Homo sapiens: one gene and its partner. The protein of the gene in region 1 purifies or fractionates together with the protein of each later gene. This does not show direct contact. Each region holds a gene or a part of one and is shown in the gene's direction. Other genes may lie near its edges. The genes, in order: ENG and ACVRL1.

Region 1 (3,600 bases):
CAGCTCCTAGGGCTGGATTAACTGTCCCTGGGGCACAGATCTCGGTCTGGGGCCTGTGGAAACCTCAGAGCCACCCCTGAACCCCCACCGAGCCACCCTTTGCCTCGCAGTGCCCATGGCCTTGTCTCCGAGGTTACAGGAAAAGGCAGAGGAGATGCCCTTCTCAGGGTGGCCCTCTGGGAGAGGACACTCTCCCTTGACCTCAAAGCCACGCTTGGCTGCAAACTGGCCAGGCAGCCACAAGGCTGGGCAAGCAAAACTATCCCTAATCCCCACCCAAAGAGCCACACCGACCCTCCCAGCCGCTGTGACAGCTCCTGCAGAGACAAACACACGGCCTACTCTTGTCACCCGGGCCGGCCAATAAGCACGGAGAGGCAAGGCCTCAGACCCTGGACAGACATCCTCCCTCCAGAGGCACCCAGGGCCTCAGCCTTCTCCTCCCTCCCTGGGCCTCAATTTCTCCACCTGTGACCCAGGGCAGGTGGATCCAGGGAGAAGAACCTTCTGGCTCCATCTCACCGTGGGTCCTGCCAGCACACACAAAGATTTGGCCTCTCAAAGCCTAGCTCTGCCAGCGTCCTTCTGCTCAAGAACTCTCCATGACTCCCAGTGGCCCTAAGGACAAAGTCCTGGCATTTGAGGCCCTCCCAATGCAGGGCCAGACTCTGCCTCTCCAGCTTCCTGTCCCCACCACACCCCTGCTGGTCTCACGGTGGTCCGACTGTTTCCTGCTTCTGTGCCTTTGCTTAGTCTGGCACCCCTGCCTGGCATGCTTTCCTCACCCCTTCTTCTCCCCAATCCCAACTCACCCAGTCTTTCAAAGGGCAGGCCTAAATACCAGGCCCTCCAGGTGGCCCAGGATTCCTTCTCTGAGCTTTCATGGGCCTGGCCCTGGGTGCTACCTGTGAGTAGTCCCACGGTGGGTACATAGTAGGTGCGCTTACTGTTTGCAGAATGAACATGGGACAGTTTGGGGACTGTCACCCAGCTCAGGGAGCACTGATGGGGAAGCATCTCCTGTATGTCCCAGGGCTCAGTGCTGTAGTGTCCTGACCCTCAGAAATCTCATAATGGCTTGGTCAGGAAGGCATCGTGCCCCACTTTGCAAACAGGGGGTGCTGAGAATTGAGGGGCCTTGTCCAAGGTCTCATGGCTAGGAGCAAGCAGAATCGGATTTGAACCCAGGGCCACGTGACTTCAGAAGTGCCATTAAAGTCCCCATAATTTGGAGCTGTCTTCTTTTTTTTTTTCTTTTCTTTTTTTTGAGACCGAGCCTCACTCTGTCACCTAGGCCAGGAGTGCAGTGGTCTGATCTCAGCTCACTGCAACCTCCGCCTCCTAGGTTCAAGTGATTCTCTAGCCTCAGCCTCCCAAGTAGCTGGGACTACAGGCGCACGTCATCATGCCCAGCTAACTTTTGTATTTTTAGTAGAGATGGGTTTTCACCATGTTGGTCAGGCTGGTCTCGAACTCCTGACCTCAAGTGATCCGTCTGCCTCGGCCTCTCAAAGTGCTGGGATTATAGGCTTGAGCCACTACACTCGGCCTGGAGCTGTGTTTTGTCGGTGAAGGATTTTCCACCCATGAAGGGGTCAGACGTGAAGTGTGTGGCCCTGGGCAGCTCCTCTGAGCCCAGAGACGCCAGCCCTAGCCGCCTTGCTGTGCCACTTTGGGACTTCCCTCCCTAGCCTGAGCTTCAGTTTTCCTGCCTGTTAGGCAGCCCCATGTCAACTGCACTTAGTAGGCCGGGTTTGATGCCCGACAAGACGTGAAGTGGTGGAGGTGGGCAGGATCCCAGCGCTACCATCTTCTTGAACCAGTGATCTCAACACATCGGATTTCTGTTTCCTCATCTGCAAAATGGGATCAGTGAGCTCAGGTGGGTCACAAATTCTACAGGAACTACTTTAGCCAAGACCGGCCCCCTGAAAGTTCCCCTCGGTGGGCTGTTAGGGTGATTGTTTTCATCTGTGGGGCTCCCTGATGCGTCCCACCCACCAGCCTTGGAGAGGGTGGGATGGGAGGGTGGGGTGCTTGGGGAGACAAGCCTAGAGCCTGGGCCCTCCCACCCCACTGCCTCCCCCCATCCCAGGGCCCCCCACCCAGTGACAAAGCCCGTGGCACTTCCTCTACCCGGTTGGCAGGCGGCCTGGCCCAGCCCCTTCTCTAAGGAAGCGCATTTCCTGCCTCCCTGGGCCGGCCGGGCTGGATGAGCCAGGAGCTCCCTGCTGCCGGTCATACCACAGCCTTCATCTGCGCCCTGGGGCCAGGACTGCTGCTGTCACTGCCATCCATTGGAGCCCAGCACCCCCTCCCCGCCCATCCTTCGGACAGCAACTCCAGCCCAGCCCCGCGTCCCTGTGTCCACTTCTCCTGACCCCTCGGCCGCCACCCCAGAAGGCTGGAGCAGGGACGCCGTCGCTCCGGCCGCCTGCTCCCCTCGGGTCCCCGTGCGAGCCCACGCCGGCCCCGGTGCCCGCCCGCAGCCCTGCCACTGGACACAGGATAAGGCCCAGCGCACAGGCCCCCACGTGGACAGCATGGACCGCGGCACGCTCCCTCTGGCTGTTGCCCTGCTGCTGGCCAGCTGCAGCCTCAGCCCCACAAGTAGGTGTCCAGGGACCCAGGGTGGGGAGACTCGGCCTCCGGTGCACGGACCAGGCCCCAAGTATTCCCGGCCTCCTTCCTGTATCCTGAGCTCACGCCCAGCAGAGCCATCCTTGGGGCTCTGGAGGGTCACCAACCCTCCCAGTTTGCTGGAACTAAATGGTTATGCAGGACTTTCAGTGTTGAAAGAAAGCCTCGGGCAAACTGGGCTGACTCTTTCACTTTAACCCTGGTCTCTGGCGTCTGCTCACCCAGCTGCGTTCCATTACTCCCCGGGAAGCCTAGGTCCCAGAATGCTGTGCAGCGACGGGAGAGTTTCCTGGCCTCTCTGGGCCTTGAGTTTCCCCATGAGGAATGGATGGGAAGGAGGGCCCACAGCCTGGGCTCTGAGCACCGTCTCTGGGTTCAAATCTCACATAGGCACTTCCTTGTGGTGTGATCCTGGGGGACTGCCTTCGGGCCTCTGAGCGAAGTGGGGAAGAGAACAGACTTCCCTCTCAGAGCTGCTGAGGAGGTGGGTGGTGAGGGATCATTGCAGAGAGGGCTCTGGCAGACTGGCCACTTCTGTGTTGTTTTATTTTTAGCTTTAAGTTCCTCCAGCTCACCTTCCCCAGGGCCTTTGGGCAGCTCCTCAAACCCTTTGAACAGGCCAAGGCTGCAGGGCCCTGCCCTGCCTCCCTCCTACCTCCCTGATCCCCAGAAAGGGTGCAGGAGTGGGTGCAGGCCAGGTTAGGGGTTCTGTGGGGCTCCTTGGCCTGGGGGCTCTTCCAAGGGGTCATGGCCTCTGCTGCTTTCTGAAACTGACCAGAGGAGGGGCGGTGAGGAGCAAGGGACCCCCAGCCCCATGTCCCACTCCCTATCCCTCGGCCACCTCAAGCCGCTGGCCGGTCCTGTGGACATCCTTTGACCCACCTGTGCATCCAGGGGCTTCCTGACAGATTTGGGGGAAGAGGGGCAGAAATGAGCTGAGAGTGTGGGGAGGAAGGGGAA
Region 2 (4,108 bases), on another chromosome or scaffold:
GGTTGACCAGAAGCCATAGCGGAGCAGGGAGAGAGAGTGTGAAAGACAGACCCGCGGCCAGGCTCCCAGTTCTCCAGCTCGTAGAGGGCCCAAGTGGCCGCTATAATCTGAAAGAGCAGATATCGTAATCCCATAGTACTTCCTATTGGCTGCAGGACACAGTTCTGTCCTGACACTGAAATTTGGGTGTGTCAGGGTTCTGGGAATTCACAACGCTCACAACTTGTGAAGCAGCTGTGGGGTGGGGGATGGGGAGGGTTTCAGCAGAGGAAGTGAGGTCAGTCAATAATTGATGCCTGTCTGAGCTTTTAGCCATTATCTCCCCCAGCCTCTATTCCTGTCAAAAGGTGGGGCGGGGCAGGAGGAGGGGTCCCTGGCTCATCTTGTAGAATCCCCATATTAGAGTAAGACACCTTAGAGGTCTACTCCTGCTTCTAATACCCACGTCTTTCCAAGTGTCTCTGAGGCCACCCCCTCCCCAGCCTTTTCATTTATTCATTTAATTAACGAACGCCTTCATTGAGGGCCTCCTCTGAGTCAGGCTCAGCCAGCCAGCATCTTTGCTATGAGCTGAGATAAGCATCATTTCCGTCTATTCTCACAACCACCCTATGAGGCTGGCACGGTTTACTATGCCTATTTAGCAGATGGGGGACTGAAGCATGGAGAGGTGTCACTAGCCTACGGTAACACAACCAGCCTGCATTCCTAGTAGGTAGTTTGACTTCAGAGTCTCTGTGGATAACCAGGAGGCTAGGACTAAGACCAGAGTCCTGCAGGTACTTAGATGGTTGGAGCAAAGCAGGGCAGTGAGGTCAGTGCTCCCAGCCTGTGCAGGAGCATCAGGAAGAGTCTGTGTCCCCCTCCCCTGCCGGTATGAAGCCATTCTGCTTCCCTCCCCAGCTGCCTTGTGTCAGCAGAGTTCCAGGGAGGCTCCATTCCCCACCTCTATCTAAAGCTCCATTTGCTGGGGTGGGGGCCCTGCCTGGAAGGGGAAGGTCCAAGGCTGCTCCCAGCGTGTCCCTCCATCCTGACTGTCCCTGGCGGGGCGGGGGTGTCTTTGTCACCCAGCTGCACAACGGCCAGGAAGGGCTCAAACCATCCTCAGGGCTAACCCAAGGCCGTCCTCTGGGCCTGTATACCCCTGTGCTGAGTGCGGATCGGGAGAGGCTGCTGAAGACAGGAGGGGACAAATGGGGGACGAAGGGGCCCGAGGGAGGGGACTGAAGGATTTGGGCCAAGTCGGGAGTTCCCGAGGGCGGAGTCAAAACGCATCTGGATTTTGCTAGCCCCAAACTCTGCCCTCATTGCTGCAAGCCTCCTAGACCGAGGACCCCCGGGCTGAGGGTGGGGTAAGGATAGGTAGTGTCCCTCCCCGTCCCACCCCCGCCTGTCCCTTCCTCGGTGGCCCCTTCCCGGCGCCCCGATTCCAGGCGGCCCCTCCGCTGCTGCCAGCCGATCCCCCTCTACCCCCACCCACTACTCCGGCCGCCAGACGTTGCCTACAGTCTCGGCTCTGTCTCCCACGGCTGTGGGTCCGGACCCCACGGGACCCCTATGGGACCCCCACAGGACCCCCACGGCCTGAGTCCAAGGCCCGCCCCCTCGGGGAGGCGGATGTGGGAGGCCCGGCCCGGGTGCGGGCCAGCGACCCGGGAGCTGCGGGCGGCTGGGAGGGGAGGCCGCCCTGAGGGGCTGGGAGCGGCGCGGGGGTGGGTCCCGGTCCTGCAGCCCCAGCGAGGGGCGAGCGGCGGCCAGTCGGCGAGCTGGGCAATAAGGAAACGGTTTATTAGGAGGGAGTGGTGGAGCTGGGCCAGGCAGGAAGACGCTGGAATAAGAAACATTTTTGCTCCAGCCCCCATCCCAGTCCCGGGAGGCTGCCGCGCCAGCTGCGCCGAGCGAGCCCCTCCCCGGCTCCAGCCCGGTCCGGGGCCGCGCCCGGACCCCAGCCCGCCGTCCAGCGCTGGCGGTGCAACTGCGGCCGCGCGGTGGAGGGGAGGTGGCCCCGGTCCGCCGAAGGCTAGCGCCCCGCCACCCGCAGAGCGGGCCCAGAGGTGAGTCGAGGTCCGCGGACGGGACCGGGTGGCGGGCGGCCTGACCCCCGCTTCAGTGGGCCCTTCCTTCGGGCGGACCCCAGAGTCACCGCAGAGTGGTCGCGGGAGGCTCAGTCCCAGCTCATTAGAAAGGCAAGCTGCTCCTGGCTGACCACGCACAGCTCCCATGACCCTACCTGAGACTTGGAGGGGAATGGACGAGACTGGACTGGAAATCAGAAACTTGGTTCTAGTCGGGTGACCTGGGGTCAGTGACTTCACTTCTCTGTTCTCCTACCCTCTTCATAAAATGGGCAGTGGGATTCCTGTCTTGCTCTACTCACATAGAAGGGATCACACGTCCTCCAGGCCGCTGGGTGGACCTGGAGTGAATGCCTACTTCCACAGCTGTTGAGCCTCCCAGCAGAGCTCACCTTTCCCAGATCAGTCCTTCCAGCTGTTGCTTGAGGAATCTGACACTATCACTCCAACCTAGGAGTCTCACCCTAGGCGCGCATGGTCAGTCACCTCCTTGCCACGACCTTCCTTCAGGATCCAGGCCAAAGGGGATCCCAGTCTCCCCCCAGGCTGGGACCCCAGATTTTTCCATGGAGGCCAGTGCTGTGAAACCCATGGCTGGGCTGGCTGCCCCAGCTCCTCTTTCCTTCTCCAAGGACAGGGGCATAATGGACAGTTGCTCTCACTCTCTCTATGTATGGCCAGCTTCTGGCTGAGTCAGGGTCTGTCCTAATACCTGTCCTCTCACCTGTCCCCCCATTTCATTGGTTTGTTAGAAATAGCTACCATTGATTGAGTACTAACTATGTAGACACTTAGATATATATATTTTTTCTCATGTAATCCTGGCCGCAACCTAGTGGAAGAGGGGTTACTATCCCCTTCCTACAGAAAAGGAAACAGACATGAATATGGGACTTGTCCAAAACTCCTTGGATGGTGGGGTGAATGGCATGGTTGGGGTCTTGATAACATTTCAGTGCTTACTGTGTACTACTTATACTCTGCTAAATAATTGTACTACATTTTACCTATGAGATAACACTATTATTATTCCCACTTTACATATGATGGGAAGCCTAAGCCTCAGAAAGTTTAAGTAACGTCTCAAATTTCATACCTCTAAGTGGCAAAGGCAGGATTTGAACCCAGGTCTCCATGCTCCAGAGCCCACACCCTAACCTCTGTGCTACACTGTGCTGCCTCCATGGTCTGCCTGAGACCTGAAAATCCAGGCATCACCTGGATGTTCCACTGCATCACCCCGCTGTGAAGGGCTAATAAATCACATGGATGAATCGTAAGGGCAACCCAATATGAACAGCTGGGTCTGCTCCTCTGCTGTTGGGGTAAGGCCTACTGAAGTGCAGAGTGAGTCCAGAAGGTTGTGCTTGATATGGCGCTTCTCCAGCCCTGTGAAGATCACTGCTGTGCTGAGCCACTGCCGTTGATGGGAGTAGGTTTTATCAATCCTTCAGGTGTGCTAGGGAGAAAAACATTGATAAGCACCTTTCGGGCATACCACTACTCTGGCTCTCCCCACCTGAGGCTCAGACTTTGACTAAGCCTATGGCAAACAGATGATTTCTGGGCAGCAACACCACCTTTGTTGCCTGGGTCAACATAGTGAGACCCTATCTCTACTAAAAATAAAACTGGGCATGGTGCTGCACCCCTGTAGTCCCTTGGGACTTGGGAGGCTGAGGTGGGAGGATCACTTGAGCCCAGGAGTTCAAGGCTACAGTGAGCTATGATTGCACCACTGCACTCCAGCCTGGGCGACTGAGCAAGACCCTGTCTCAAAAAAAATTAAAAACAAACAAAAACGCTGTCTTCATTTAAACAAATCTGAGTAGGGCACCCGTTAATAACAACAGTAGTGGGCAATTTGTACACGTCCACCGAGACCCATGTCTTTTTCTTCCTTTGAGGGACTCATCTAACCCCAAACAACTGGAGGAATAACAATGACCAAGGAATGATTTATTATCAGCAATTTAAGTTTATTAAGACACGCTCAGTGACTATGGACAAGAAACTGAACATCTCTGAGCCTC

What was found.
Region 2: the proteins of ENG (region 1) and ACVRL1 purify together in Homo sapiens (affinity purification with western blotting; 3 studies listed by BioGRID and IntAct, with this or other methods). This does not show direct contact.

Annotation. Positions count from the first base shown.
Region 1 is NC_000009.12:127,853,299-127,856,898, reverse strand, and holds the start of ENG (endoglin isoform 1 precursor), read left to right. Parts: upstream 1-2,240; 5' UTR 2,241-2,543; coding exon 2,544-2,610; intron 2,611-3,600. UniProt on the Homo sapiens protein: Vascular endothelium glycoprotein that plays an important role in the regulation of angiogenesis. Required for normal structure and integrity of adult vasculature. Regulates the migration of vascular endothelial cells.
Region 2 is NC_000012.12:51,905,642-51,909,749, forward strand, and holds the start of ACVRL1 (activin receptor type-1-like isoform 1 precursor), read left to right. Parts: upstream 1-1,862; 5' UTR 1,863-2,054; intron 2,055-4,108. UniProt on the Homo sapiens protein: Type I receptor for TGF-beta family ligands BMP9/GDF2 and BMP10 and important regulator of normal blood vessel development. On ligand binding, forms a receptor complex consisting of two type II and two type I transmembrane serine/threonine kinases.